2 separate regions of the Homo sapiens genome follow, and region 2 is linked to region 1. The links come from fine-mapping of genetic effects on gene expression. A gene starts in region 1. The other region holds a variant in brackets. All regions are shown on one strand. Distances are from middle to middle.

Region 1 (15,586 bases):
CACTCTGGGAGGCCGAAGTGGATTGATCATCTGAGGTCCAGGGTTCGAGACTGGCCTGGCCAACATGGCGAAACCCTGTCTCTACTAACAATACGAAAAAATCCGTTGGGCATGGTGGGACGTGCCTGTAATCCCAGCTACTCAGGAGGCTGAGGCAGGAGAATCACCTGAATCTGGGCGGGGCTGGGGGGGGTGGGGGGCGGAGGTTGCAGTGAGCGGAGATCGCGCCACTGCACTCTAGCCTGGGTGACAAAGCGAGACTGTCTTAAAAAAAAAAAAAAATCAAAAGAATTTGCCAATACCATGTATAGGATAAGAAAATACGAAAATTAAAAATTGTACAATTTTAAGTGAGCCAGTCAGCAAAAAAATTTGTGTTCTAGTTTTCTCCTAAGCACACCCAAGAGTCAAACAGTTCCCTCAGAGCCATTCCCAAGTGCTGAGAAGTAACAGAAATTCAATGCATGTCATTCACAATACAGGTGAATGTTTACTGAATGCATTATAACCATATATGCAAAAAAATTAAATACAAACATCGTCTGGGCACAGTGGCTCACACCTGTAATCTCAGCACTTTGGGAGGCTGAGACAGGAGGATCGCTTGAGTCCAGGAGTCTGAGACCAGCCTGGGAAACATAGTGAGACCCCCACCTCTACAATTTTTTTTTTTTTTTAATTAGCTGGGTGTGGTGGCAAATGCCTGAAGTCTTAGCTACTCAGGAGGCTGAGGCAGGAGGATCATTTGAGCCCAGGAGTTTGGGGTTGCAGTGAGCTGTGATCACATCACTGCAGTACAGCCTGGGAGACAAAGTGAGGCCTTATCTCAAAAAAAAAATTATATATATAATTTCTAACTTGAAGTATTGGCTTAAAAATAAGTCTCATAGTATTTCCCATATAAATATCCAATCAAGAATGTTTTTGTTTCTTTCTTTTTTTTAATTTTTATTTTTTAGAGACAGGGTCTTACTCTGTCATCCAGGCTGGAATGTACTGGCACAATCATAGCTCACTGCCGCCTTGAACTCCTGTGTTCAAGCAATACTCCTGCCTCAGTCTCCCAAGTAGCTGGGACTAAAGGCAGGCACCGCCATGCCCAGCTAATTTTTAATTTTTGTAGACACAGGGTCTCACTATGTTGCCCAATCTGGCCTTAAACTCCTGGCCCAAAGCAATCCTCCTGTGTGTCTCCCAAAGTGCCGAGGTTACAGGTTTGAGCCACCACACCTGGCCTAGAATGTTTTTCTTATACTAAATTTTATAACAGAGAAACTCCAGGAAAAAAAGCAAAATAAAGAATATCTGAGAATAAAATCTTTCAACTATGTTTATAAACTCAAATCTTGAGTTTCATTTTGATATTTTTTAAAAAATACACGTTTACTTCCTTTTGAGAATAAAAAAATTAAAATTAAACAATAAAAATGCACATTTCTAGTAAAAACTAAGCTAATTATGAATATTATCTTGCTTAGAATGATCAGCACTCGGGCCGGGCATGGTGGCTGACGCCTGTAATCCCAGCACTTCCGGAGGCCGAGGCGGGCGGATCATGAGGTCAGGAGATCGAGACCATCCTGGTAACACGGAGAAACCCCATCTCTACTAAAAATACAAAAAATTAGCTGGGCGTGGTGGTGGGCGCCTGTAGTCCCAGCTACTCCGGAGGCTGAGGCAGGAGAATGGTGGGAACCCAGGAGGCGAACTTGCAGTGAGCTGAGATCGCGCAACTGCACTCCGCCTGGGCGAAAGAGCGAAACTGTCTCCAAAAAAAAAAAAAAAAGAAAGAAAGAAAGATCAGCACTCAGACAACTGCAGAAACAAAATGAAGAATAAACAGCATGGCTAAATCTAGAACCCCACAGCAGTCGATGTTGACTTGATAAATTATTTCCAAGGGACCAGATGCAGTTAGTCTATCAGGCAGCTTCTAGTCTCTTAGATATAATGCAGACCAACACTCTGAAAATAGAAAACTCACAGAAAAAAAGCCTGGGTAAAGTCATAAAGTCCTTAGAATCAAAAACTTTCTTGAATCTGCCTATGCCAGGCATTATATATTGTTACCATAATCTAAAACAATGCTGTAGAACAGAAATATGGCCTAAGCCACATATGTTAATTTTCTTAGTTTCCACATTTAAAAAAAGGTAAAAATAAACAAGTAGCATTTAATATTTAACCAAATACATGTATATTTATATAACCCAATATAATTTCAACATGTAATCAATTAGAAAATGAATGAGATATTTTACATCCTTTTTCCAAACTAAGTCTTCAAGATCCACTGCATATTTCATTCACACACATCTCAATTCAGAGTAGACACACTTCAAGTGCCTACATTTCGACAGCCATATGTGGATACCATGTTGAATAGCACAGGTCTAGAAAACATTTAATGACAATAATGGTAATCATAAGGCTCTTTAGAGGATCTGGAGCAAGGTCCCTACTTCAGTGTTGCTGGGAATACCTGAGTTTCCTCTAATGCTTTATCCTCTTCCTAACCAAATGCAAAACTGCGTATCTAAGAATATATGTCTGAAAATAGAGATAAAGCAGCACATACTCACAGATCTAGGTTCTTAAACATTAATTCTTGAGGTTAAAACTTATCCACAAAAAAAATACCACCCTAGGCCAGTGCTTCCTTTTTCTATTCCTTCATTCATTCCTTGGAAAAGAGGCAGAGAATGCAGGTATTTTCAAACTGATGCTGAATTAGATCTGATACTCATTCATTTATTCAACCAACATTTGGCAGGTGAATACCTACAATGGGCCAACTGCTGTCTTGAGTGTAAGGAATATAAATACAAGTAAGATATGGTTCTTATCCTAAGATATTTACAGTCTAGTCTAGTAAGTGAGATATCTAGACTTCCACAATGTGTTCTGTAAAAACAGGAGCTCACTATTCTTTTCAGACGGTCTCACTCTGTCACCCAGGCTAGAGTGTGGTGGCATGATCATGGCTCACTGCAGCCTCAAACTACTTGGGTCAAGTGACCTTCCCACCCTAACCTTCCAAGCAGCTGAGACTACAAGTCAGTACCACAATGCCCAGCTAATTTTTTTTTCTTTCCTAGAGACAGGATCTCACTATTCTTACCAGGATACAGGAATTCACTTTTAATGTTATACAGCAGCACTAATAGAAATAGAACATGAGCAACAGATGCAAGTCACGTAGGTAACTTTAAAATTTCTAACCACTTTAAAAAAAGTAAAAAGAAACAAAATTCCAAAAATTTATTTTACTTTACCTATATATGTAAAATATTATAATATCTCAACATGTAACTAACAAAAAAATGAGAGTTCTTTTTTCTTTTTTCTTTTTTCTTTTTTGAGACAGAGTCTCCCTCTGTCACCCAGGCTAGAGTCCAGTGGCATGATCTTGGCTTACTGCAACCTTTGCCTCCCACGTTCAAGTGATTCTGCTGCTTCAGCCTCCTGAGTAGCTGGGATTACAGGTGCCCATCACCACGCCAGGCAAATTTTCGGATTTTTAGTAGAGATGAGGTTTCACCATGTTGGCCAGGCTGGTCTCGAACTCCTGACCTCAGGTGATCTGCCTGTCTCGGCCTCCCAAAGTACTGGGATTACAGGAATGAGCCACCTTGCCCGGCCAGGTTTTACATTTTTTAATACTGTTTTTGAAATCCAATGTGTATTTTATACGTAAGAATAACTCTACTCAAACTAGCCACATTCCAAATACATCAGCCAGCACAGTTTTATAGATCTGTTTTTCAGAAAATTAAAAAGAATTTGCCAGTTACAGGTACAGGAAAAAGTAGCAGAGAGGCTTGAACATGTTCACAAGTTAAGAGAAAAAGTAAAGAGAAAGAAAAGAAACATACTAATGATAACTGATGGAGTATGGACAGCAGAATGAAAGAAAAGGATCAAAAGCTTAAGTGGAATTGTTATCTTGGAAAAGAGGGTTGCATCTTCCTTGTGACTGTGAAGGGAAGAATTAAGTACCAGTATAAAATATAAGCAAGTTCGGTGAGTGTGAGGAAGAACAGAAAGTTGAGGGAGTTCAGATTAAGACCTTCTCATTTTTCTCAGTTAATCAGAAGACAATCTTAGCAGCCTCCTACCACCATCGCCAATACAATCTAAAGGGATTACATTTATGGAACAGTTTAAGAAACAGTTATCCTAGTAATACTGTTTTTGTGTAATTACTCATTTTCTAACTTTTTTCTGGGCTAGTCAATCTTAAATTTGGTCATTTTTGTCTCTAAACACAGAAACAACACTACAGATTCATTCTTTCTTTCCTCATCTATTAATTATTTGTTCAGCAACATGTATCCAATGTCTACTTATGTAGAGTATGTGTGACCCTGACCAACATTTGTATCCCTGGTATTCAGCATCTGTTAATACCAGCACACAGCAAGTGCTTTAAAAATGTAGTATTACATTCAAATATGTACTGACACAGACTTTCATTTAAAAGTCTAAATTGGTGCTGTCCAATAGAATTTTCTGTGATAATGAAAATATGAACTGTCCAATATGGCAGCCAATGGCAGCCAATAGACACATGAATTCAAATTTTAATTTTAATACCCACATATGGCTCCAATTTTAATTTTAATGGCCACTTGTGGCTAATGGCTACCGTACAGGTCTAAATATTAGAATACAGTGAGTAGCTAATGGCATTTCCATAATTATAATCAAGGTATTGTCATCTCTAATGAGTTAATACATAAAATATGGTACTGAAAATGAGTATACTTTGAATAATACTAACTGTACCACAAAGACACCATAAGAGAATTTTCTTAGTGTCAAGTAACTTTAACATTGTGTGCCAAAAAGAAAAACAAAAAAGGATATTCCAATCTTTTTATTTTCAGCCTACTTTCCCAATAGAAAAGATCAAGCTTCTGTCAACTTTCTGATTTTTCCATCTTCTCAAGTAGTGAAAATATTTTGTCATAAGGAGTCACACTTTTTTTTAATTAAAAAGAAATTACTAGAACATAGGCATTGTTTCTGTAATAAAAGGACTTTTTTGTGAGACATTAGTTGAAAATCGGGATTCATATAACGAATTAAATATGCTTATAACTCCAACCTGTCCTTAGGATTTGCTTGTCAATTTCCCCAAATTTGTCCTAGTTATCTGCATTTTAAAATAAACCCATTGCTGAAAGTCGTGGTGATTCAATCCATTAAGCCACTGGAAGTATAATCTAAACTAGCTTTTACCTGAGTTGAATAATTTCTGGTGCAGTAATCAGAATAGCTGTCTATGACTGGGATAGCAAAATATACTTTCATTACTCTGTATCCAGGGTCCTTGATGTTTAATTTATGTGATCATACAAACTTAACCAGAGACACAAAGTCCTACATTGGCCCAAGTATGATTACATACTTAGAGGATCTGATAACTTAAAACCAGTGAGGTGAGCAACTAAATGTCAGAGATAGCATTTTTTATGCACAGGAACTTGTTCAACTCGTTAACCATCCCTGTTAAGACGGCTGCCTTGTAAAATAACCACACACAACTTCCGGCCCTTCCTTTTAGCTGGGTTCATTTGAAGCCATTTTAAAAAACATTACCAGGTTTTCTGTCTTGAAGATGAGCATGGTTATACAACCAGGATTTTATTCTGGCTAAAAAATACCTAACAGTGAGAAAGGATGTCTCAATACATTTTTAAAAAAGCTTCAAGAGAACCACTTTAAAATGATCTTCCTACCACACAAAAACACCATCAGGTAAATCAGCCCTCTATACAAGAAGATTTGGCAAATCAAAAGCATAAGATCAAATCTGTAATAATTAACTTTCTGAGTAAAATTACTGTGCTACAGCTTACTGCAACAAAGCCAAAGTATTACAAGATGGTATTATAATGACATCATTAGCTTGGTTTCCTAATAAAGCATATATCTGGGATATCTGAATTTACAATGCTAAAAACAGAGACCCAACATTTGTAGGAGGGAGTGGTAGGCAGTTCTTATTTATAATTTTTTTTTTTTTTTGAGAATGATGCCCGCTGCAAAACGAAGTAACAGAAGGCTGGCTCTGAAACACCACACTTCTTGGTCTTAACGTTAAAATGCTTTTCTAGAGCAGAAGGGAAAAAGAGTTATCAGTGCTTTCGTCCCACAAAAATAGTTCCTGTTTCACTAAATTTTACCACTGCCTTTAGAATTAGTAAATGAAAACGCCAACTTGTAGAAGCATTAAGTTAATGCGATTTAGAAATTAAATAGTAACCGGCCTCATCACACAGATAAGGTTAGGCTTCTTCAGCCAGGGGCAATTTCTGTCCTAATTGTCACAGCTGCCTTAATGCTGTACTTTCTGCGCTGTAGCTGCCAGGAGGCAGATAAGATTTTTCTCTCTGAATTAATTCTGGGAAAGGTGGCACTTTTTATAGGCCTTAAATGACCCTTTTCTAAGATTTTTTGTTGGTGGTGTCCAGATGTTCCAATAATACTGGAGAGTTAACTATTCCTTCCAAACCTGTGTCGTTCAAACTGCCTTGAGGAGAACGGGAAAAAAGTAAGGTTCACACTCGAAAAGTTTCACTCGGGGTGGGGTGAGGACGAGGTAGGAAGGAAACGACAGTACGTATCGTTCGTAACTATCGTACAATACGTATCGTTTCCGAAGCTAGACCGGCAGCTGGCACAGTCTTTCCCCTTTCCAGGTCCTGGGGAGAAACGTCTCTCGCTGAGGGGGCTAGACACCTACGACAGCCTCCTCCTCGGGAATCAACACAGCTCTGGATCGTGACACGCTTCCAGAAGTCCGTGACGAGTGGGGGCAGAAGACAGGTTCTTCGCTTCCCCTTCACCCAAACACGTCCCAAATTGTTCGAGGCAGGAAGAGCACGCCTCTCTCATCTCCCCAAGACCTACTCTCGCTCAGCTCCCTCGCCCTGTTTCCTCTGGGGGCACCGCCACCCCGCTCGGGACTCCCGCCTCTGGCCACAGCAGCCCCGGAGCGGCAAGGGGGAAGAAGTAACGGAGAAGCGCCGGCTAGAAGCGGCCGCCTCCGGCCGCTCGGCGCCAGCCTCGGCGGCCCGGGCTTGGAGGCGAGACGAGCCCGGGAGCCGCACGGGGCTTCTCCGGCTCTGGGCCCCGCGCCCGTCTCCGCTGCGGCCTAGCCGGGCGCCCACGCCCTGGCCTCCCGGCTCCGCGCCGCCGGCCTTTCCCCGCCACCCCGGGCCGAGAGGCCCCGCGGGGGCGGACGAATGGAGGTGGAGGGGCGGGGGCACCTACCAGCTGCTGCCGGATCCAGCGCCACATTCCCCCGTCGTCGCCGTCCGGGTCCCGCGGGGCGCGGGGGCCGCGGGGCTGCAGGTGGAGGCCGACAAGACAGAGGCGGGAGCGGGCGAGCCCCTCGGGCCGAAGTTCCGCTTACCGCCGCCGCCGCCACTGCCTCACTCCCCGCGCCGCGTCCCCATCCCGCGGCGTCGGCCCCGAGTCCTACAGGCGCGGCCCCGGCGCCGCCCCCGCCCGGCGCAGCTGAGCCTGCCGCCGCGCCGCAGCCACCTTCATTATTGACCGTTGTCACCCAAAGCACCCCCGCAACCCCACCCCCGCCCCGCCCCGCCCGGCCCCCCGGCTCCACCCGGGACCGCCCCCGGCGCCCCGGCCCGCCCCCGGACGTGACGAAAGGGGGTGCGCGGACCGAGGGGGGCCTGGCGCGCCCCGCCGCCGTTCCGAGTTGGGGGGTTTCTGTGTTGTGGGTCCGGGAAGAAGCGAGCGTGGAAAGGTGCCGGGTTCTCGAACGCTGTTTCTGTCCACTGCCACCCTCCTCCCCGTTCTGGGAGTGGGATTAAGTCGTGTCTGTGGGTCTGGCCATCTCCGGAGTCTGCAGCTTGGGGCCGATTCCTCGGTCTCTACCTCCTGTTGCAGGTCTTTTTCGGGCTCTGTGGCTTCTTTGGTTCACGCGTCTCCCGACACGCATACGCACAGTCCTGAACGTATGTGACTGAAAGTTAATCCCCCCAGAAGTCCCAGTTTGGGTTCCATCAAGCTGTAAGAGCTTTCGTCTCAACACAAGTCAGGCCTCTTCTTTAGCAAATGGCTGAGACGGGGCTAGGGAAATCTTGATCACACCCATTAAGTGATTCGAAAGCGTTGCAAGTCCCCTGAGCCTGGTACAGCCTGGACCCGTGTTTCTAGGCGAATGGATGAGATATTCTGTCTTGCCGTGTGCTAAATTGGACAGGTTCAGGGGAAGATAATTTGTATAAAAAGGTAGTTCTTTACTGCTAACTGCCAAACTTCTGCAATCAAAAACACCCGTAGCAGTAACTTGACCTAGGTTAAAAAAGTGTGTGGATGACAAGCTCAGAAGGAATATACAAGCAACTGGAACAAGGCTTTGACTTAAAGGTTTGGCGTTGTTTAAAAGCAGCCCCGTATACATATTGTGTTATGTATATGTATTGAATGCTGTATTTTTGCTGAATTAAAGCACACTTCACCGACAGACGTTTGTGGTTAAAAAAAAAAAAATTAAGCGGCCGGGCGCGGTGGCTCACGCCTGTAATCCCATGTAATCCCAGCACTTTGGGAGGCCGAGGCGGGTGGATCACGAGGTCAGGAGATCGAGACCTTCCTGGCTAACATGGCGAAACCCCATCTCTACTAAAAAATACAAAACATTAGCCGAGCGTGGTGGCGGTCGCCTGTAGTCCCAGCTACTCGGGAGGCTGAGGCAGGAGAATGACGTGAACCCGGGAGGCAGAGCTTGCAGTGAGCCGAGATGGCGCCACTGCACTCCAGCCTGGGCGGCAGAAGGAGACTCCGTCTCAAAAAAAAAAAAAAAAAAAAAAAATTAAGCAAGAACAAATCTAAATGAGATTAGCATGACTAGGCAGGTCGTTGAATATGCATCCTCAATCTTCTAGTTTCAGTAGACATTTCTTACTATATAATGCTTATCCAGCACCACAAATAGAATCTTTCTTTGGGGATATTTATGATCTGTAAAACCAACATGGAATTTTATATTATAAATCATCCAACTTCAAAAAATAGCTAGATATTTGAAAAGTCATCTTACTTTTATTCTTGTGGCTAAACCTTACTTTATGACCCTAAAAGGAAGTTTTGAGATATATTTAGTGACAAAACCTTACTGCCATTCATGGAGCACTGTGTCCATTCATGGAGCACCCAGGTCCTGTATCAAGTTCTTTACTTGTATGCTGTAATTTAACTCCAATCAATCCCTTGAAGTAGGTATTATTCCCGTTTTGTATAGATGCAGAAATGGAGGCTCACACTAATTTGGCAAAGCTAGGATTCAGATTCTGGATTGTCAGGCAATAGTGCTCATGTTCTTAAGCTACGTCCAAAAATAAAAATATGGCCATGCCTACTTTTATTCATCTGCAAATGGTTTGATTACAAATTAGGCCTGGAAATTTTTATTTATATGCCGCTAAAATTTTTCAAGATAACATAAGAAATAGCGATCTGGAGAATACTTTGTGTATCATTATTTAATTGTGCCCCAAATTTCAAAAGGAAGAAGTTGGGAGAAGGAAGGGCTTGATTCCTAGTGCTCTGGTGGAATATGGTAAGAAGTAATCTCAGGGTAACTATGTAAAGATCAAATTGAAGCTCAAACTGTCAGGAACAGAATGAGCAGCCCAGGTAGTGTTTTAAGCCTTTTTTTTTTTTTTTTTTTTTTTTTTTTGGAGACGGAGTCTCACTCTGTCGGCAGGCTGGAGTGGAGTGGCCTGATCTCGGCTCACTGCACCCTTCGTCTCCTGGGTTCAAGCGATTCTTCTGCCTCAGCCTCCCGAGTAGCCGAGTAGCTGGGACTGCAGGTGCGCCACCATGCCCAGCTAATTTTTGTATTTTTAGTAGAGATGGGGTTTCAGCATGTTGTCCAGGATGGTCTTGATCTCTTGGCCTCGTGATCCACCTGCCACGGCCTCCCACAGTGCTGGGATTACAGGCGTTAGCCACCGTGCCCGGCCATTTTAAGCATTTTTTTAAGAGCAGTACTATACACCTCATGTTCTTACAAGGAGCATAAGATAGGAGAGCGTTTTTATACTGCAGGGGTCAAGGGAAAGCTCTCCCCTTGGCCCTCTGAAGATTTGAAGAAAAATCAACTTGAAAAAGGCAGATTAGAGAAAAGGCATATAAACTTAATGTGCACACAGTGTGCACATGGGGAGAATCATAGAGTGATTGCCAACCCCCTAAGTGGTTGACAAGCTAATATACCATCCTGGCAAAACAGGTTATGGGAGTGGGGAGAAGAGGAATTCTGTTGAGGAAGTTACTAGGGAAGATGAATGGATCAGGGAACAGAGATTAATTAACTTGTATGTTATTTTGTCAAAGGGTCTATTAGGTGTGATTACATTCTTGGTCTTACAGGAAGGGAAGGAAAAACAATTATTCCTTTTGATGGGTCTAGATCTTGGGCAGATAAAGGAACTTCAACTTCATCTTGTGCTTTGGGAGAGATGGTGGAGCAAAGAGGGGAGGCCAGAGAGATTTTGCGGCTTCTTCAGTTCAGCATGTCAAAACACTATACTTGGGATGTTGATTTCTGAGCCCCAACAATACTGTAAGTATAACCACCTGGTGGTGAAATCAGTTTAGTGTGTCATGATCTGTATTTTAAAAAATAGAATAGAAAACAGCAGAATACATGACACAGAGTAAGTACTTACACGTATTGTTTTGTGAATTTTTCATACACATGTACATCAGGTCACAATATAAAAGCAATTTCCTCCTATTGGTTATGGTTAGAAAGGTTTGAAAAACATTGAGATGGCTAAATACAGAACTTAAGGACTTAAGAAGGCAGGCACCAGCTATAAAGGAAAGGGAAAAAAATGCTTGGAGCCAGTGGTAATTCATTCAATCCACACTTATTTCTTACATGTGTTGAGCATCAAATGTATGCATAACAACTGCCTAAAACTAGGAGGAGACGCAAAGGCAACTTTTAAGGTGAGCCTCTTTTCCCTGGGTAGTTTAAAATCTAGTTAGAAAAAGAAGTTGCAGAGGGGAATCAGTTAAATAACAATCCAAGTCAGTATGGGATTAAGTCCTGAAGAACTATACTGACAGTAGACACTCATTTCAGAAAATTGATGTGAGCAATAGCAGTTGGGGAAGGCTTCAGAAGAAAGGAGCTGAATTTAAGCTGAACTTGAAGTGGGAGGATGAAGGTAGGAGGGAAAGACTTTCCAACAGGAAGAAATGCAGGAGCAAATACAGAGTCAAGAAAGCTCAAGATGTTTGAGGTACAACTAACTTGGTGTAATAAGAGGTGAGATTGGGTAAGTAAGGGGAGGCATAGTGTGGGGTGAGTTTCTGTCTAGTCATAAGAGTTTACAGGAAATGGGCAATCTCTGGAATTTTCTGATCAGGTTAATGGCAGGATGAAATCAGAGTACTAGTCCATTGACACTATATGTGATAGGTTGGAGAGAGAAGAAAGGTCAGATAGGAAGTTATTGCAAGAGTGAAACATTAAGTTGAAAAGTGCTGGACTGGCAAAGAACCAGAAGTAACAAACTGTTACAGGAAGCTGTGCTGTGATGCAGGGAAACTGGAAAGTTAAGCTGTACCAAGTGAAGTAACAGAAACTCCGAGAGAGTAAGTTTACCAGCATCTCATAACAACCACTGAATAAATGGTAAATATGGTTCTTATTGTTGAGTAAACTTGTTAATGTAATTCTGTGCTAGTTATACTGTGAGACATGATCATTCCCAAGAGAAAAACATCTCCTAGTTCAGTACAGTATTCTCAGCTATAACACAGACAAAACAAAGAGGGCTGTTTTTCTTGATGAGAACATCTTGGACCATCAATAGGAAGCACAGACTATGATCTTGTTAAGGTCGACATTTGTGGCTCATTCATTCTGGTACCCACAGCGTCTAAGGAGTACTCAGTAAATGTAAAATGAACTAAGAAAGCCAACGACCGAGTATATGGAGAAAAACATCAAAGTGATATAGAGCCAAGCACACTGAATAACTTTAGTAGATCCCAAACTATGCAGTGAGACCGGTGGTCACCATCATTTAGATCCAGGGCACTTCCTGTTGTGTGCCTTTCAGAACTCTTCAAGGGTCAGTCTGCTTGAAGGACACAGCCTCGCCAATCTGTTGCCCTAAATATTTCTATAGTGATGGAGCTATCAGATGGGCATCAGAATCTGCTCTATCTCATTTTTTAAAAGGACAACTTTTGGCTGGGTGCAGTGGCTCACGCCTGTAATCCCAGCACTTTGGGAGGCTGAGGCAGGTGGATCACGAGGTCAGGAGATCGAGACCATCCTGGCTAACATGGTGAAACCCCGTCTTTACTAAAAATATAAAAAAAATTAGCCGGGCCTGGTGGCAGGCACCTGTAGTCCCAGCTACTCAGGAGGCTGAGGCAGGAGAATGGTGTGAACCCGGGAGGCAGAGCTTGCAGTGAGCCAAGATCACACAGCTGCATTCTAGACTGGGTGACAAAGTGAGACTCCGTCTCAAAAAAAAAAAAAAAAAGGACAACTTTTCACTTCCTCAAAATCATCAATCTAGTACTAGGTTACAAATTATTCCATTTAAAAAGCATTTTCCTTCTGATTATCATTTCAGGATTTCCAGACCAGACTTTAGGCAAAGAAAGAACAGACTTCAAGCAAACTTTTCTCTACTGAATAGGATTATATATTTTATCACCTTGTGAAGAATTTCATCAGAAACAACATCTCATTGCATATTTGCATCTTTTCTTGAAAATTCCTCAAATATATCTATTGTGGGCAATTACATGAATTCATCTTTATTTTTTGGCTACTTATGCTTACACAGAACTGATACTCAAAGCCAATGTGAGAATTAGAACTCACAAAAATGATCACTTTTTTGAAAGGTGAGAAAGTACACAAAACATAAATATGTTCTGTACCTTCCTTCTTCCTTATTTTAAGTTGCCTTTCAATAACTTGATACTATCTTTGGATGAACTGGACGTGGGATTCTGTCACCTCTCTTATGAAAGACAGAATGGGGAAAAAATGAATGAACTTTGTTGTATACGTTTTTGGGTTAAGGAGGGAAGGAAGTTAAATAGCCAAGTGGCTTCTGATTGAATTACTGACAGAAATATTGGTGGCCTCAGATCAGCTGCAGCAGAACTAAAATTGTTAAAACTGTTATCGTTGAGACAGTCTGCGGCGCTTAACCAACTTTTGGGCTATCTGTGCTGCACCGTAGATCAAATTGCTTACCGTCTAGGAGGCGTTAGTTTTACAATAGTTTATCTTATAGATGTCACAAGTTTCATTTTTTGAGGTTAGATATTTTATGAGGTTTTTTTTCTGATTAAAATGACTGTATTAGGTAGGTATTTGCTAACAGCTGCTTCATAGATTTTCTGGGCTAAAGCATTCCCAAGTTGTGTTCAACGGCAAAAACCTTTGGAGTCACATTGCCCTCATATTTCTATTGGAATAGATCCAAAATTGCTGTCTAAGGAAAATCTTGGCTTACCCCACAAATATTTCCTCTGTTTCCTTAATTTTTATAACACAGCGTTAACCCCATTCCTAGTTCCCATGACTGCTAATGCAAATGAATATGCTCTAAATCGTTGACACGACTCTGCTTTTTGGATATTTTCAGAAATGCTGAGTCGCAAGAAGTAACACTTAGGGAAGATTTCCTGAAATCTGCACTGTATTTGGGTGTTCTAATTTTTATCTTTAGATTAAAAAAAATTGTGAGAAGTCTTTTTTTTTTTTTTGGATAGTCTTCTTTTGATTCCTCCTATGATTACTTTTACCAAACTGCTGTTTAGGATCACACAAATACCCTAAGTCTAGGGATGGTAGGAGACGCAGCCTCAGAAACCCCTGACTGACTGTTTTTACTGTGGAGATGCATCTGAGAACGTGCTAACTTATCACATTGTGTTCTCTTAACAAGAGCCTGCAGAAATTTAGTACCACAAATAACTGGTTTTTTTTCTTTTTTTTTTTTTGGAGACAGGGTTTCACTGGAGTGCAGTGATGCAATCTTGTCTCACTGCAACCTCCACCTCCCGGGTTCAAGCTATTCTCCTGCCTCAGCCCCCCAAGTAGCTGGGACTACAGGCATGAGCCACCACACCCAGCTAATTTTTGTATTTTTTGTAGAAATGGGATTTCACCATATTGCCCAGGCTAGTCTCGAACTCCTGAGCTCAAGCAATCTACCCACCTTGTCCTCCCAAAGTGCTAGGATGACAGGCGTGAGTCACTGCTCCTGGCCAACTGCTTTTCTTGAGCAACTAGTTTTATAATCTTGTGGGCATTTTGAATTATATAATTGAATGTGCTTCCTTTTGTTGTTGTGGTGGTTGTTCAAAAATTCAGAGGCTTACTTTTAGCCAGTGCCCAGACCCTATGGTGTACATTTTGTGAATTACTTTTACCCCAACTTCTTATTTTGTCTATTCTTAATTTCTTTTTGGTTGGTTACTTCACTTCCTTTATATCTTATTATACTGTATATATATTTTTAAGCCACCTTCAATATTTTTTGAATAGAAGAAATAAAGGAAAATGTAAGACATAATTATTCATGATTATGCCACAAAGACTAATTTTAAAATGAGGTAATGAGCTTCAAATAATCTAATCTGAAGATTATTCAATTTCCTTACCTCCACCATAATTACATGTATATTTTCACTATTTTACAATGACTGTACATGTAATTTGTATGAGTAGGAGATTGACAGGAAAGAAACAAAATGATGAGTAAAGGCTGAAGCCAGGTAAGCCAGGGTGTGGAAAGAGGGGAAAAAATGTAAGAGAGAGGGAAATATGCTGAATCCAAGAGAAAACAAGCGCCGTTCTTTCAGGTTGCAAGAAGTAGCATGGGTTGGAAGTGGAGAACTGGGAAATACTGATTCAAAGAGACTGCTGTATGGGAGGCAGGAAGAAAGTGGCTAGTTGTTCAAGAGATTAGCATTCCCACAGTATCCAGTATCTCTCCAAGTACTTTGCACACTGGTCATCATATAATTGTTTGCTGTAACCTCTTTAATGTCTGTCTTCCCCATGAGACTGTTCTGGAGGGCAAGGACTCAGTTTGTGGAATTCATCAAGAGCTCAAGTGTTTGTTTGTGTGACCAGCTGTTCTATAAAGAATAAGGAAATTTTATGGCTAGGTGTGGTGGCTCAGCACTTTGGGAGGCCACAGCAGGCAGATCACTTGAGGTCAGGAGTTCAAGACCAGCCTGGCCAACATGGTGAAACCCTGTCTCTACTAAAAATACAAAAATTAGCCGGACATGGTGGCGGGTGCCTGTAATCCCAGCTACTCAGGAGGCTGAGGCAGGAGAATCGCTTGAACCCGGGAGGCAGAGGTTGCAGTGAGCCAAGATCTTACTACTGCATTCCAGCCTGAGTGACAGAGTGAGACTGCATCTCAAAAAAAAAAAAAACCAAAAAACAAAAAACCAAAAAACCAAACTAGATTTTAAGTGATCAGTGAAGAAATCAGGGAATTTTCTAGACATCAATGATAAAATGGACTTTTATGAGTAAAAAAGG
Region 2 (15,586 bases), 76 kb before region 1:
ATTCCATCAAAAGATACCTCTAAAATATAACATAAATTTCACATAGAAAGTGCTATGGTTTGAATGTCGAATCCCTTCCAAAATTAATGTGGAAAGTTAACCCCCATTGTTATGAAGTGGGGCCTTTTCGGAAGTGATTAAGTCATAATGGCTTTGCCTTCATGAATGGATTAATGCTCTGATAAAAGAGGCTTCAGAGATTTGCCCTCTCTTGCCTTTCGTCCCTTCCACCATGTGTGGACACAGTAATCCTCCCTTCAGAAGGATGCAGCAATAAGGCACCATTTTGGAACAGGGAGCAGCCCTCACTATACAACTTGCTGGTGCCTTGATCTTCAACTTCCCAGCCTCCAGAATTGTGAAAAATAAATTTCTGTTCTTTATAAATTACCTAGTCTCAGGTATTTTGTTACAGCAGCACAAACAGACTAAGACGGCAAGCCTAAAATTCACTTTAAGAGTGTACTCTACGTTTTATAATACAGCTTTTGTACAGAAAAGAAAACAAATACTAATGATTAGCATATTCATTAAAACCACCTATATACAGAAGACTTAAAGAAAATAGCCTAAATTACAAATAATAATCTTCTGATGACTTTGTTATTAACCACTGCATAAGCTTTACAATTTTCAGTATTTTTCAAGTAGACATTTATTATTTTTATAATCAGAAAAATATTTTTTAAAATTATTTTTATTTTTTAGGCAAGAGCACAGTTCACTGTAGCCTTGAACTTCTGGGCTCAAGTGATCCTCTTGTCTCAGCTTTCGGAGTAACTGGGACTACAGGTACACACCCCCACACCTGGATAATTTTTAAATTTCTTGTGGGGACAGGGTCTCATTACATTGACCAGGCTGATCTCAAACTCCTGGGCTCAAGCGATCCACCTCAGCCTCCCAGGGTGTTGGGATTACAGGCATGAGCTACTGTGCCCAGCCAGAAAAAAATATTTAAAAAGGCATATATAAAGTAAATGATTCTGAGCAATTAATTTCTGTGTTTTAGGGAGTTCATGATATTGCAGTATTTAAACGTTTAAATAGCCACAATGTTGTTGACACTGTCCCCAAATTGTAGTATAATTACCTAAATTAATTGTCTTTTTGCACTCAAAGATCCAGTGTGACCCTATTTAAGAGATATTTTAAGAAGACCCTATATGGGCCGGGTGCGGTGGCTCACACCTATAATCCCAGCACTTTGGGAGGCCAAGGCAGGCAGATCACCTGAGGTCAGGTGTTCGAGACCAGCCTGACCAATGCAGAGAAACCCTGTCTTTACTAAAAATACAAAATTAGCTGGGCACGGTGGTGCATGCCTGTAATCCCAGCTACGCAGGAGGCTGAGGCAGGAGAATCACTTGAACCCGGAAGGCGGAGGTTGTGGTGAACCGAGTGCGTCATTGCACTCCAGCCTGGGCAACAAGAGTGAAACTCTGTCTCAAAAAACAAACAAACAACAACAACAACAAAACAACAACAACAAAAAATCCCCTGCATGGTCTTTTTAAAATATCTCTTAAATAGGTTTTAAAAAGATGAAATCCAGACTTGGTATCACATAAATGCCTGCATAAAAAATATAAATAGAAAACACTGAATGTATATTAACAACTATGGTATTTGTCTCTTGGTATTTATTTTTCTGGATTAGTATCACAAGACAGCAAACAACAGAAACCTGCAGGAGACCTAATATGCTTACATACAAGCAGCTCTGATGGTCAAATGAAGCCCTTCCTAGTTTACTGTGAAAAATTAGACTGTGTTAAATGGGGCATCATTTGCCCCCATACAGGGCAAAAATTTGATATGCCTATAAAAGATAGATTTACAAAAAAGACAGAATTTAGAGTATAAATTCTTATGAAATAATCTTGAACAATTAAATGCAGCTTAATTTCCCAGTTTGGTCATGCAAACTAGATCAGGGGTTGGCAAATGTTTTCTGTTACGGGCCAGAGAGTAAATATTTCAATTTTAGGTTTTGTGGGCCAAGAGGCAAAATTGAGGATATAGGTAGTTACAGAATGAGAGGAAAAAATCTCAACAAAATTTTCACTAAGATAAAAATGTAGTAATCATTGAGTATAATTTTTTAAATAAGAGAGGTTTACTAATGAGAAGAATGAAAATACTTCTTTTGGGCAAGGGATAGTACTTTGTTTAATTGGGGTTCAAAGTTAACATTGCAAATGTTCATCTGTTAATGTCCATCTGTAACGAGATTTTTACATTTCCATACGATAGAACTGTATGTAATGAGATTTATAATTCATCTTTGAAAATGTCTTTTCAAACAGGTAGCACAGCTAACATATCAATGCATAATAAACAATGCTTTGCCATCTAACTCAAAAATAAAATAATCCCCTATCCACAGTGCTTCAAAAAAAATCGTAATGTTAAAAGTCCACTTTTCTTTTCTTGTTTTGACATGATGGCCATATACTAATAAAAAACAGTAAAATGTCGCAACATGGTGCTATGCATGGCACTCCAAACACTATCACATTATATGTATCTCACTGTGATTTGTAGAGTATCAAACAGCAGTGTAAAGCTGAAGAGAGAGTATTTTGTAAAGTCTCTGCTGCAACTACTCAATTCTGATGCTGTAGTGTAAAAGCACTCATTGGTAATATGTAAACAAATGAATGTGATTGTGTTCCAATCAAACTTTATAGACACTGGAATTTGAATTTCATATACTTTTCACTTCATGAAATATTCTTCTTCTTTGGATTTCATCTATCAAAAAATGTAAAAACTACTTTTAGCTGATAGGCTGTAAAAAACAGGCAGTGACAGTGGGCTATATCATCGGGCCCAGGGAACCATAGTTTGCTAACCCCTGAAAGGTATGATACAGGTTCCTATATTCTTACCTTCTGGCAAGCTGCCTCAATTGTTCAGCACACTCGCTGTCTGATTTCTGGTTTATAAGTTCAAGGATGTTCATGGTTCTATGAAAATGGCCACATGATAAACTCACACTAACAGCTGTTTCATGTTTATCCCCAGTAAGTACCCATACTTTGATACCAGCCATTCTCAATGCTTCAATAGTTTCTCGAACTTTATCTTGTAGTCTGAAAAGAACAGAAACAAATTAGTAGTAGAGAATACTTTTATGACTGTATTTTAAGTTAAACTACATAGTATATTTAAGGATAATTCTAAACTCTTTGACTTGACCTAGGAATGTTATTATACAATATAGCAATATAACTGGAATTTTCTCTCATTAGGAAGGAAACACGAATAAACAGATTGGTAATTGTCTGGTTAACACAAAATCAACCAATTAAAATCTACAATTTCATATTTTAAGAATGTATCTTCAAAGTTGCTATTCATAGGATGAAACTATGTGCTCTTCATAAACTCCTGTTTTATTACGAAGTCTTACATTTCAAACAAGAAGATTTTTCTCCTTTTGTTTTGATTTAAAAAAATATCTCAAACCACTCATATAGTTAAAAAATCAGACTGTAGAAAATAAAGGTCTAGCTAACTTTAGGTGAGTCTCAGAAATCTCGTAAGGACAACCAAAAAGTAAATGAAAACATAGATTTTAAAAATATGCAAACACCCTTAGGTCTAGGTGGTGGAGGCAAACATAACAACAAACTTAATCTGCAGAATTCAATCTCAGAATTCAGCTAAATTTAAGAAACTGTGAAACAGACATTGAGATAGGTTCTGGGAACAAAGACAAAGAATAAATGGACTTCAAGGATTTCACAGGTTAACAGAGGAGAAGTCTTTAAACAAATAATTATAATATAGTGCCACAAAGACAACAACAGAACTACCTACAATGAGACTTCACAAAGAAGAGAATTTTTAATCCTCTTAGGTGTCAGGAAAGGTCTTACTGGACTGGAGCTAATATCTAAGCTATACTTTATGAATAGGTAGTCACAGAGGGATGGTGAAGGGAAGAATCACCCAGGCAGAAGGCCAACATAGGCACAAAACAGAATAGTTTTAGCTACAGGTGGCATGCAGAGACAGTTTGGTATTGTTGAAACATAAAGCGGAAGGAGACAGTGGTAGGAGGGAAGGCTGGAGAATTAAGCAGGTGCTTCAAGTGTTTGCATGACATGCTGAGGAGTATTCTAAAGATTCAAGCCTATAAGAAAAAACTATAGAGAGCTAGTTTCTTTCATCCATTTCAGGTATCTAGCTAGAACAAAAATTGTACATACTGACCGGGAAAAATTAAGGCTTTAGTTCTCTACTTTGATCTTAAATATATCATGGGATGTTAGTAAAGAGAATTTATGTCACATATTAGAATACTTGGTTACAAAAATTCCTATGAGAGAAAAGTAATATTTTTTAATTATCTGATACTTACCTGTCTTCTACTGCTGTGGCTCCAAGTAATATCAGGTCTTTCTCTATGAACTGGAAAACAGCTGCCAATTTCTCTTCCCGCTGCTGCAAGGCAGTCCTGGCTTCAAATATGCGTTTATCTATTTCCTCATACTCTTTTGATGTAAATTTTCTATATGCTATACACAGAGTTCTTAGCCCTTTCTAAAACAAACAAATAAAAATTAAAGACAAAAATTGAACACAAACAACAAACAGAAAATCAAGAAGTCACTATCAAAATACACTGAAGACCTAGTACCAAAAGTCAATCACAAATCATTTAAAAAGTACTATCACCTAGTGACAGGAAATAAATAATGTCACAAAGCTCTACTGATCTGAGTTATGGGACACATATACCTCTTTCAACTTCTGATGTTTTCTTAAGAAGTTGCTCAAAATAGGCTGGGTGCGGTGGCTCACGCCTGTAATCCCAGCACTCTGGGAGGCCAAGGCAGGCGGATCATGAGGTCAGGAGATCGAGACCATCCTGGCTAACATGGTGAAACCCAGTCTCTACTAAAAATACAAAAAATTGGGCGGGCATAGTGGCGGGCACCTGTAGTCCCAGCTACTCAGGAAGCTGAGGCAGGAGAATGGCGTGAACCCGGGAGGTGGAGCTTGCAGTGAGCCGAAATAGCATCACTGCACTCCAGCCTGGGCGAAAGAGCGAGACTCTGTCTCAAAAAAAAAAAAAAGTTGCTCAAAATAATTAAGGTCACTGAATTGTAGAATATTAGAGCCTAGAATAGATCATAAAGACTATCCTATTAGTGGTTTTTAAACTGTGTTACATGGAAAGCCAGAAAGTTCTTAATACCTTCAAGACTGTCAAGAGAGAGAGACAGCTGCAGGTTCTACCTTCCTGTTTTAACTTACAATTCCATTTTTTACCTACTTCGTACAATTTTCTAAAGCAAAGGAGACCATAATTTCCTAAAGATTCATTGCATGACAAAATTTACCTTTCAAATAAGTCAATAAAATGGCCATTATAAAAAATACTTTTTAGATTTACCAAATAAATGATTTTAAGTAATATATCTTCACCAGTGAATTGGAATCAGAATTGATTATCTGGTTCTACTAGGGCCAAAGTTTTCTTATAGTATTCATCTCTGAAAGTTGATATCTAAATCTAAAGACTTATAAAAGTTCCTTTTCTTGCTACATGCATTTTCCTCAAGAAAACCAATAATAAATATTCTTTTTTATTTTTAGAGACAGGGTCTTGCTCTGTTGCTCAGGCTGGAGTGCAGTGGTGTGATCTTGGCTTACTATAGCCTTGAACTCCTGGGCTCAAGTGATCCTGCTGCCTCAGCCTCCTGAGTAGCTAGGTCTACAGACATGTGCCACCACGCTTGGCTATGTTTTATTTTTTTGTAGAGATGGGGTCTTGCTACATTGCCCAGGCTGGTCTCAAACTCCTGGCCACAAGTGATACTGCCTCAGCATCCCAAAGTGCTGGGATTACAGGCATGAGCCACTGTGCTGAGCCCCATAATAAATATCCTAATAACAACTTGGAAAGCGTAGACTTAAAAATACTATATAACATTATTTAGCAGATTTCTTTTTTTTTTTTTTTTTCAGACGGAGACTTGCTCTGTTGCCCAGGCTGGAGTGCAGTGGTGCGATCTTGGCTCACTGCAAGCTCCGCCTCCTATGTTCAAGTGATTCTCCTGCCTCAGCCTCCCGAGTAGCTGGGACTACTGGTGGGGTTTCATCCTGTTAGCCAGGATGGTCTCAATCTCCTGACCTCGTGATCTGCTAGCCTCGGCCTCCCAAAGTGCTGGGATTACAGGTGTGAGCCACCGCGCCCAGCCCTATTTAGCAGATTTCTAAATATTGCCATTCCCTGACTTATAAATGACCCATACCTATAAATGTGCTTCTTTTAATTAATAGTTAAAAAACCATCTGTTATTAATATATGAATTAATTCATTCTATAACAAATACTTACTGAGCACAAACTATGTGCCAGCATTATTTTAAATATTAAAATGGTGATAAGGTAGAACAATGTCTTTGTTCTCACAGATGTTACGATGTGGTGGGTAAACTGGAACATAAACAATTAGGAAACAAATAATGGGAAAAAAATCATAAACTGTTAAAGAAGGCAGATGAGCAGAGGTGAGTGTGGAGCACACATTCACAGAAATGCAAAAATGAGAGATCATGAAGTTCTAAGACTGAGAGAGAACTGCATAATAATTTTGCCATTTACATGAATGATGGCTCTTTGTTTTAACAAGATTCCCCTATATTTTTAAATTTTGTAAATGAGAGATATAATTCACCTCTTCAAACAGTACAAATCAGTGTTATATCGCATATTCACAGAGTTGTGCAATTATCACCACTATCTAAATCCACAATATCTCATTGCTCCCACGAGGACTCTCCTTTTTCCCCTTCCTCCAGCCCCTGGCAATCATTAATGAGCTTTCTCTGTGAATTTGCCTATTCTGGATATTTCATATAAATGTAGTATTAATATAAGGCCTTTTTTGACTGCCTCTTTCACTCAGCACACTCTTTTCAAGATTCGTCCATGTTGTAGCATATATTGGTACTTCATTCCTCTTAACAGCTGACTGATATTCCATTATATGGATATACCACATTTTGCCT[A/G]TCCACTTGTTAGCTGGACATTTGGGGTTTTCCATTTTTGTGGCTATTGGAAATAATGCTGCTTATGAACATTTCGTGTATAAGATTTTTTTGTGAACATGTTTTCAGCTGTCTTGGGTGTCCACCCAGGAGTAGAACTGCTGTGTCATATAGTAACTCAATGTTTACCTTTTGAGGAACTTAGCCAAATTATTTTTCAATGTGGCTGTACCATTTATAATCTTACCAGCAATATGTGTATAAGGGTTCCAGTTTCTCCACATCATTAGGATTCCCCTATGTTTGTTTAATAAACACTCTTCTAAAATAGCATAGTTTGAGTAGACCTTGTAACCAGAAATGCCCCGACTGTAGAGTAGGTTTGAAGAGAAGATATATTTTTGCTTGCGTTAAAAGTCAGTTTTCACAAAAGGAATGTGGAGCCAACACACAGTGTAACACAACTGCAGAATGTCCACAATTTTTGATAAATTATAAGAAATAAAGTCCAAAATATTTCATAAATATATCTTTTAGAGTTTTTTAAATCATAGAAATTTGCACTCACCAAAGCAAATTCATCTACATGAATTCTGGTTTTTTCTATTTCTCCACCTATACATTTAGGGAGAATTGATGACTCAGCTCCTTTAGCAAATAATAACTTCTCACCTAGAGACAAAAAAAATGAGTTATCAGACTCTTAATATTACATAAATAAAAATTCATGAAAGTTTAGATTGGTTACCTGAAGGTGCCTGAACAATTACACTCATTCTCCTACGATCTGAATCAAATTCCAGAATATGAAGCAGTTTGTACCTAAACAAAAGAAAGTAAGAAAGACAAAAACTTTACTTTTTTTAAAATAATATTAAGTGACTATATGGAAATAATCCATATATAAGATAAAATGGCTAATTGAGAACAAGAATTAATACCATTTTCATGATGATAGGTTACATGCCATTAATAACAAAACAGGGAAGAAATAGAAGAGACTGACATTGAGTAATTACCAAATGCCATGTATTTTACACACCTTATGTCATTTAATATCCATGAGAGGCCAAGAAAGTAGGTCTTATCTCATTTTTATAGATGAGGACTATTAACCTCAGAAAGATTAAGTAATTTGCCTAAAGTCAGGTAAGCTTGTGAGTGGCAGAGCAAGAACTGGAATCCAGATCTGCCCAGCTCCATGTTTTTCTGACTAAAAAAGGTAACTGATTCTCAACGCTTTTTTCTGTCCTAATACACCTGACAAACACAACACACATTAATATCAAAGGCTCATTATAGCAGTGACTGTGAACCTGGGTGTGTGTGTGCGGGGGTCCATTCCCTCGTGCCTCTCTAGGGAGCTGTAAAAGAATTTGTGTGGCTACATGAGGTGTGGCTTAAAGTCTTCCAGATGAATCTTACACAGTGATTTACATATGAAATCTTTACACATCTCCAAGAAAAACAGTGAGTTGAATAATGGTTTATAAGTTGATAAAATAAGCTAGACAGGCTCTCACATGAAAGTAGCCAAAGAATGGGCCCTATCTAGTATGGAAAAGCATAGTTTGGAAAAGCACAGCTGGAATTGACATATGATCAGAATTGCTAAAACCATGAAAGGAGTAAGTATATTAAGCATGAACTAATTTATCAAAGAATGGAAAAACTAGATATAGACAGCTGTTCCTTCATGTTTGAAAGATAAAAATCACAGGAAATACAAGGAAAGTTTTCTTTATTCAGTGAGAAGAACCTATAAAACTCACTACCCAGAAGCATCTAAAAATAAACATACAAGTAAATTCAAGAATCATTAAGTTAAAATATAGATGAAATATTCAAAGCATACTATTGTTATAACTATGATGAGATACAATATAATGTTAACATCATTCTAGAGCAGAGTTCAGTAACTTTTTCTGTAAAGGGCCAGAGAGTAAATATTTCAGGCTTTGCAGGCCATACATGGTCTCTGTTGCATATTTTACCTCTTTTTAAAACAACCCTTTAAAAATGTAATGTGGGCCAGGCACAGTGGATCACACCTGTAATCCCTGCATTTTGGGAGGCCAAGGTGGGTGGATCTCTTGAGGCTAGGAGTTTCAGACCAGCCTGGTCAACATTTCCACTAAAAATACAAAAATTAGCCAGGCATAGTGGCGCATGCCTGTAATCCCAGCTACCTGGGAGGCTGAGGCACAAGCATCACTTGAACCTGGGAGGTGGAGGCTGCAGTGAGCCAAGATTGTGCCACTGCACTCCAGCCTGGGTGACAGAGCAAGATTCTGTCTCAAAAAAAAAAAAAAAAAAAAAAGTAATGTGACTTGTGGGCTGTAGAAAAACAGAAAATATAGGCCACATTTGCCCTGTGAGCTACAGTTTACTGATCCTTATTCTATACTATATACACTTAACACAGAAAACATTCCAATATATGAAAAAAAATTACCGTTCCAGTTTTCCAAGAGTTTTAACCTCCATAGTTTCTTCAGAATTGCCAATAAACACAATACCAATCCTAGACATCAAAAGGATAAAAAAGTGAGACTTAAGAAATAATACTGCATATTTCACAATGTCACTATAGCTTAACTTGAATAAAAACATTTAAAATCAAAGTTCAAAATGCATTTAAAAATATTTCCTTTTAATATTACAACTTTGGTGCCAGGAGTGGTGGCTCATGCCTGTCATCCCAGCACTTCAGGAGGCCAAAGCGGGTTGATCACCTGAGGGTAGGAGTTCAAGACCAGTCTGGCTAACATGGCGAAACCCAATCTCTACTAAAAATACAAAAATTAGCCAGGTGTGGTGCCCTGTGCCTGTAGTCAGTCCCAGCTACTCAGGTGTCTGGGTCAGGAGAATGGCTTGAACCCCAGAGGCTGCATTGAGCTGAGATCACACCACTGCACTCCAGCCTGGGTGACAGAGTGAGATTCCATCTCAAAAAAAGAAAAAAAAATATATATATATTTTATATATATTCTTATATATTCTTTTTAATATATATTTTTATTTATATATGTTATATATAATAATTTTTATTTATTACTTACATATTTTTATAAAATGTATATAAAAATATATAAATATATATACACATACACAAACATATATATATACTTTTAAGGACTAGAAGGATTAGAAGGATCAGAGTAGGTGTAGTACAACATATGCACAAGCATTTTTAATAAATTCTATTACACAGATTTTTATAGTAATCAGATTTTCAAAGAGATCTTAAAAAAAGACTCAATGCAAGCTTGATAATAAAATGACTTCAAATTGTCATTTAAAATTTAAATTGTACTTCTATTTTTATGTATTTATATGAATTCTGACAACTTAAAATGACGAATTTATGTTTGAAAATTTTAAATGATGATTCTAATATTGTTACATTTATTTAAATGGTGTTTTTCCGAAGATTTGGAAATCAGACTAAATTACCTTGCAGCAGCTTCTACTAGAGCCTTTTCATCTGGTGAAGATGCATAGTACTCCAACTGCGATGGTGCCAGGTTGGATTGCCAGGGACCATCACCAGTGCAGTCAGTTTGAACATTGCTAATCTGTACAGTGTGACAGAGACTGACTGCTTTAAAGAAGAGATCATGTTCTTTAATCTGTAAAAATGTAATTAATATTCATGATAAAAATATCATTTCCACATACCATTTAGGAAACCAGAGGCAAAATTCTAAGATCTAGAACAAGAGTGCTACAACCTTGATTGCCTGAATAACAGTTGGTTGTTTCTGCCTTCAAAAAGTAAAATGTCACATTTGCTTAGGACCCTTCAACACGTGAGCATCTTTTTAGGAGGTACAACCACATTGCAAGTAGAGGGGAACACTTTTTTATAGAAGAAGTGAGGTCTCAAAAAGTATTAAATAAATTTAAGCTCTATTTTTCAAAGAAAGTCTTCTTCACTTCAAGGCAGTAAGGGCTTTTCTTAACTACGTTCCATTTAAATACTCAAAGAGCTAAGGCAGACACGTATTAAATAACAAGTTAAACTGGGCTGTAACAACAAATTCTTAGGATTATATTTTATATTGTTGAATCAAATATATGAATTTCAAATGTATATTCCTTGCTCTACTGACACAAACTTTTTTTCCTGCAACTCATCAACTACTGAAGAGAATTATTTCATATGAAACCCTTATTTATTAATTTAAAAATTACTTACTAGTTCAGTTTCATTTTCAGGACTGGTTCTGAAAGAGGAACTGGTTGTAAGATGGGATAAGTTGTTAAGATGGGATAAACTACTAAGATAAGATAAGTTTCCTTCTGAAGAGTCTGGTGTTGGTCCTTCGGGTACAAGTCTACCATTAATTTCTTGGTATTTCATGCCATTAATTGAACATTCCCGAAACTGCATCTCATTTTCTGTCAGTGTACCAGTTTTATCTGTAAACACGTACTCTACCTATAGAGATAGAAAACAAAAGAAAATAAACCTTTGTGTTCATGGTCCTATGTTAAACAAGAAAAAAATCTCTGTCCTCGCTCTCCTGAAGTCCAGTTTATCTATTAATATTGATATATGGATGCTGAGATTCTTATAATCCAAGCACAATTAAATAAATATAGATGCCAAGGAAAGAAAACAGGGTAACACAAAATAGTTTAAAGCTACATAGATTTTGAAGTTTGTGGCATCTTTACGTACATGTTTATCTGTAGAATTGACGAGAATTTGGTATTAATGCTTCTTTTCTTTTTCTTGGCTAAGGTATTTTAAGTAGTAGGACTCTAAGAATTATCTCTAAAGCAGGGTGGAAAGGATGCTTAATAATGTAGAATGGGAAAGGGTATCCGAGTGAGGAGAAATAGTGCAGAGCTAGGAATAGGAATACACAGTGATAGTGACAGCAACACAAGAAGTTAGAGGTGCGAATTGTCTAAAACAGAGAGAAGTTGAAACTGAGGACAGAAAACAAATTTAGTGAAAAAAATCGATGTTTAAAAGAAAAAAACATATTTTTAAAAGTAAGTAAGACAAATTATTTTATTACTTTTGGAGACTAATTCCAGAAAAAGTACTTTAAAAGAAAGTATGTCCATGAAAAAAGAAGGATGTAATAGTCAAGTCTTGATCCAACCAGGATCATCATGAAAATCTGATTACTGCAATAATGACTTGAGAAAGAAGTCCTTTAAAAAGGGATGTAGAAATCACAAGAAAAGAAGCTACAGATCAACATCCCTTATAAAGAGATGCAAATCAAATCCAGAAACATATAAAAAGGGTTATATACTACAAATATGTGGGATTTATCCCAGAATTGCAAGATTGACTCAACACTTAAAAAAATTAATGTAATCCATCATATTAATAAAATGGTACCTGGCCTTCATTTTATTGATAAAATAACCACCAAAATAGGTACAGAAAAAGCATTTGATAAAAATCCAATACCCTTCATGATAAAGGCGTTCAACAAACTGGAATAAAAAGGAACTTCCTCAGCCTGATAAAGGGTATCTATAAAAAACTCACAGTTAACATCGTACCTTATGGAGAGAGACTGAATGCTGTCTTCCTAAGATCAGGAATAAGACTGCTTTTGTCACTTTTACTCAACATTGTACTTAAGGTTCTAGCCATGACAATTAGGCAAGAAAAGGGAAATAAAAGTTAACATGATTGGAAAACAAGAGGTAAAACTATCTCCATTTGCACATGATATGACCTTGTATACAGAAAATTCTAAAAAACTGACTAAAAAAAATAGAATATATAAGTTCAGCACAATTCCAGGATAAAAAGATCGATATCCAAAAAGAAAGGTAGGGTTAAATTTGGCAAAAAATTACTTAACTTACCTAAAGTCAAAAAGCAAATAAATGGTGAAACTGGAAATAAGAGATAGAATACTTTATCTTTACTATTTGATATTAAATGTTGCCCAGTATTTATAGCAATGTTGAACTGGAATTTAAAGACCCCATGCAAGTTAATTAAAAAAAGCCCACACATGTAGATCAGGAAGAATGAGGGATGAGTTATACAGAAAATATATAAGATACATTAGCAATCAAACAGAAATAATACTCAGAGGTTACTAGAATACAGACTGCACTATCAGTCATGGAGGATTCTTTAGAAAAAAGATTAGATGGTAGGGATGGATAAAATAAATTAACTTTGATTTAAAAGTATATATATATATATAAAATCAAGAAGTTTAATCTTTTAACTTTCATGATAAACAGGTCATCACTGTAAACCTTCCTAAGAGTTGTTTTTTGGATAATATGGAAATGAAAGAGCACAGAAGAATATGAAATAAAGTAGATTTCATTGGTAAAAGACAAAATAGGAATAGAGGCAGTAAACATACATTAAATACTTGTAGTTTCAAAAGCAAAAAGAGAGGCTGAGAAAATCAGTAATTAAAGAAATAATCACCAGAAGTTTCTTAAAGACAAAGCAGACATGAGTATGCATACACAATGTGAGGTTCCAGGAAAACAAAAATTCTATCATGAAGAAAAAAGGAGGGGAAGAGAGTTGAGAAAGAAAGGTCAAAGGCAGATTGGAAAAATTTATTCAGAAAAGTAAAAATGGGCCTTTAGGCCTTACATATATAATATGTAATTAAAGAAATGTGACATGAATTAATATTTAACATAAATTATTAAGGCCTCCTAAATGTTACTAAAAATAAATGGATTGGCCAGGCGCGGTGGCTCATGCTTGTAATCCCAGCACTTTGGGAGGCCGAGGCGGGTGGATCACGAGGTCAGGAGATCGAGACCACGGTGAAACCCCATCTCTACTAAAAATACAAAAAATTAGCCAGGTGTGGTGGCGGGTGCCTGTAGTCCCAACTACTCGGAGAGGCTGAGGCAGGAGAATGGCGTGAACCCAGGAGGCGGAGCTTGCAGTGAGCCGAGATTGCACCACTGCACTCCAGCCTGGGAGACAGAGTGAGACTCTGTCTCAAAAATAAATAAATAAATAAATAAATGGATCAACTTGTGGTTAAACATGACAGGTTGAGCACATTTAATTATCTCTGGTTCTCTTAAAACTTCACCATGAGGATAAAAAAAAAAACAGAAAAAGAACAAAAATAATGGTAAAAAAGTCAGCATGAGAGGGAAGATTGACACAAGTTTGGAAGATGGAAAAGGAGATGAATGAGTGGTAACTGATGTACCAGAACTTAGAATCTGAAACCCAAGTGATGAGAAAACCCATTCTCAGAAACGCTCAGGAAGTAGACCTACCAGCTACCCCTGAATGTGGGAGTACAGGATGAGGCTGAAAATACAAGCTATCAGGAGTAGTTTAAATTCTGAAATCTCTTTAAAAGTTGCAAACTTCAGAACGCCCCTCATTTATTGGAGCAACAGCTGGAAGGTGTATTCCCCTAGTAGGCTGAACTGGACAGAATCTGGTCTCCGCAGACAGCTGAACACAGAAGGGAGGCAGTGCACTAAAAACAGGTATCCAATGGCCAGCTCTAGCAGCCATAAGCAGCAGAAATATTACCTGCTGGGCCTGTCAGCTCATTACCTTAAGGTGTGGCCCACTGAATCAATAGCTTCTGATAAGCATATTAGTGCCTGAGGTTTTTTTTGTTTTTTTTTTTTAGACAGGGTTTCACTCTTGTCACCCAGGTTGGAGTGCAATGGCACAATCTGGGCTCACTGCAACCTCCATCTCCTGGGCTCAAGTGATTCTCCTACCTTAGCCTCCCAGGTAGCTGGGACCACAGGCACACACCACTGCGCCCAGCTAATTTTTGTATTCCAGCTAGTATTTGTATTTTTTGTTTTTGTATTTTTTTGTAGAGATGGGGTTTTGCCATGTTCTCCAGGCTGGTCTTGAACTCCTGGGCTCAAGTGATCTACCCACCTTGGCCTCCCAAAGTGCTGGGATTACAGGCATGAGCCACTGAGCCCAGCCTTTCATTTTTTTTTTTTTTTGAGACAGGGTCTCACTCTGTTGCCCAGGCTGGAGTGCAGTGGTGTGACCAGGGTTCACTGCAGCCTCGATTTCCTGGGCTCAAGTCATCCTCTCACCTCAGCCTCCTGGGTAGAGTACTTTTAAATTTGAAATGATAGCCAAAGATTAGCATCCATTTGAGGATCACTCCTTACATAAAAGGTAGAATCTGAAACAAATTATAATCAGTTCTGTTGTAACACTGTCTTGAAAACACAAATTTATCCCAATGCAACTGATACAATAAGAGACAATTTGAGCATAATCAAAACTTTGTGCAAATTTTGCCCAAAACTCAGTTACTAGCTATCTCAGTTCACCATGTGTTATGAGTCACACTCATCCACATCTGGTATTACAACCTTCCCTCTGATTTCAGATAACCTTCCCTTTCACACTTCACAGTAACACTTAAGTTGCAACCCTTCTGATGCCTATCTTCCACAGGCAAACTTCAGGTCCAGGTAAGTGCCGTATTTATTGAAGCATTTGTGTATTCATGAACAATTTGGCAAGTGCTGTTTTTATTAGGTTCCTATCTTTTAAAAAATGTATTATTAGGCTGGGCACAGTGGCTCACACCTGTAATCCCAGCACTTTG

The links.
Region 2: its variant is fine-mapped to the expression of ATP11B in lung (TOPMed, PIP 0.91).

The regions. Positions count from the first base shown.
Region 1 is chr3:182,785,482-182,801,067 of GRCh38, reverse strand. It overlaps ATP11B (ATPase phospholipid transporting 11B (putative)), which reads right to left and starts at 7,564. Exons shown (of 30, transcript NM_014616.3): 1 at 7,282-7,564. The coding sequence starts at 7,308. It overlaps ATP11B-DT (ATP11B divergent transcript), which reads left to right and starts at 7,704. Exons shown (of 3, transcript NR_187316.1): 1 at 7,704-7,988; 2 at 12,642-12,918. RefSeq lists enhancers at 1,195-1,695, 1,696-2,196 and a silencer at 6,980-7,729.
Region 2 is chr3:182,861,324-182,876,909 of GRCh38, reverse strand. It overlaps ATP11B (ATPase phospholipid transporting 11B (putative)), which reads right to left. Exons shown (of 30, transcript NM_014616.3): 13 at 11,212-11,454; 14 at 10,467-10,642; 15 at 9,466-9,534; 16 at 7,759-7,832; 17 at 7,579-7,682; 18 at 4,373-4,554; 19 at 2,895-3,098. Among named protein-coding and RNA genes, the nearest start is that of ATP11B, 76 kb to the right of the region's middle. The variant A/G (reference allele first, on the strand shown) is at 7,032.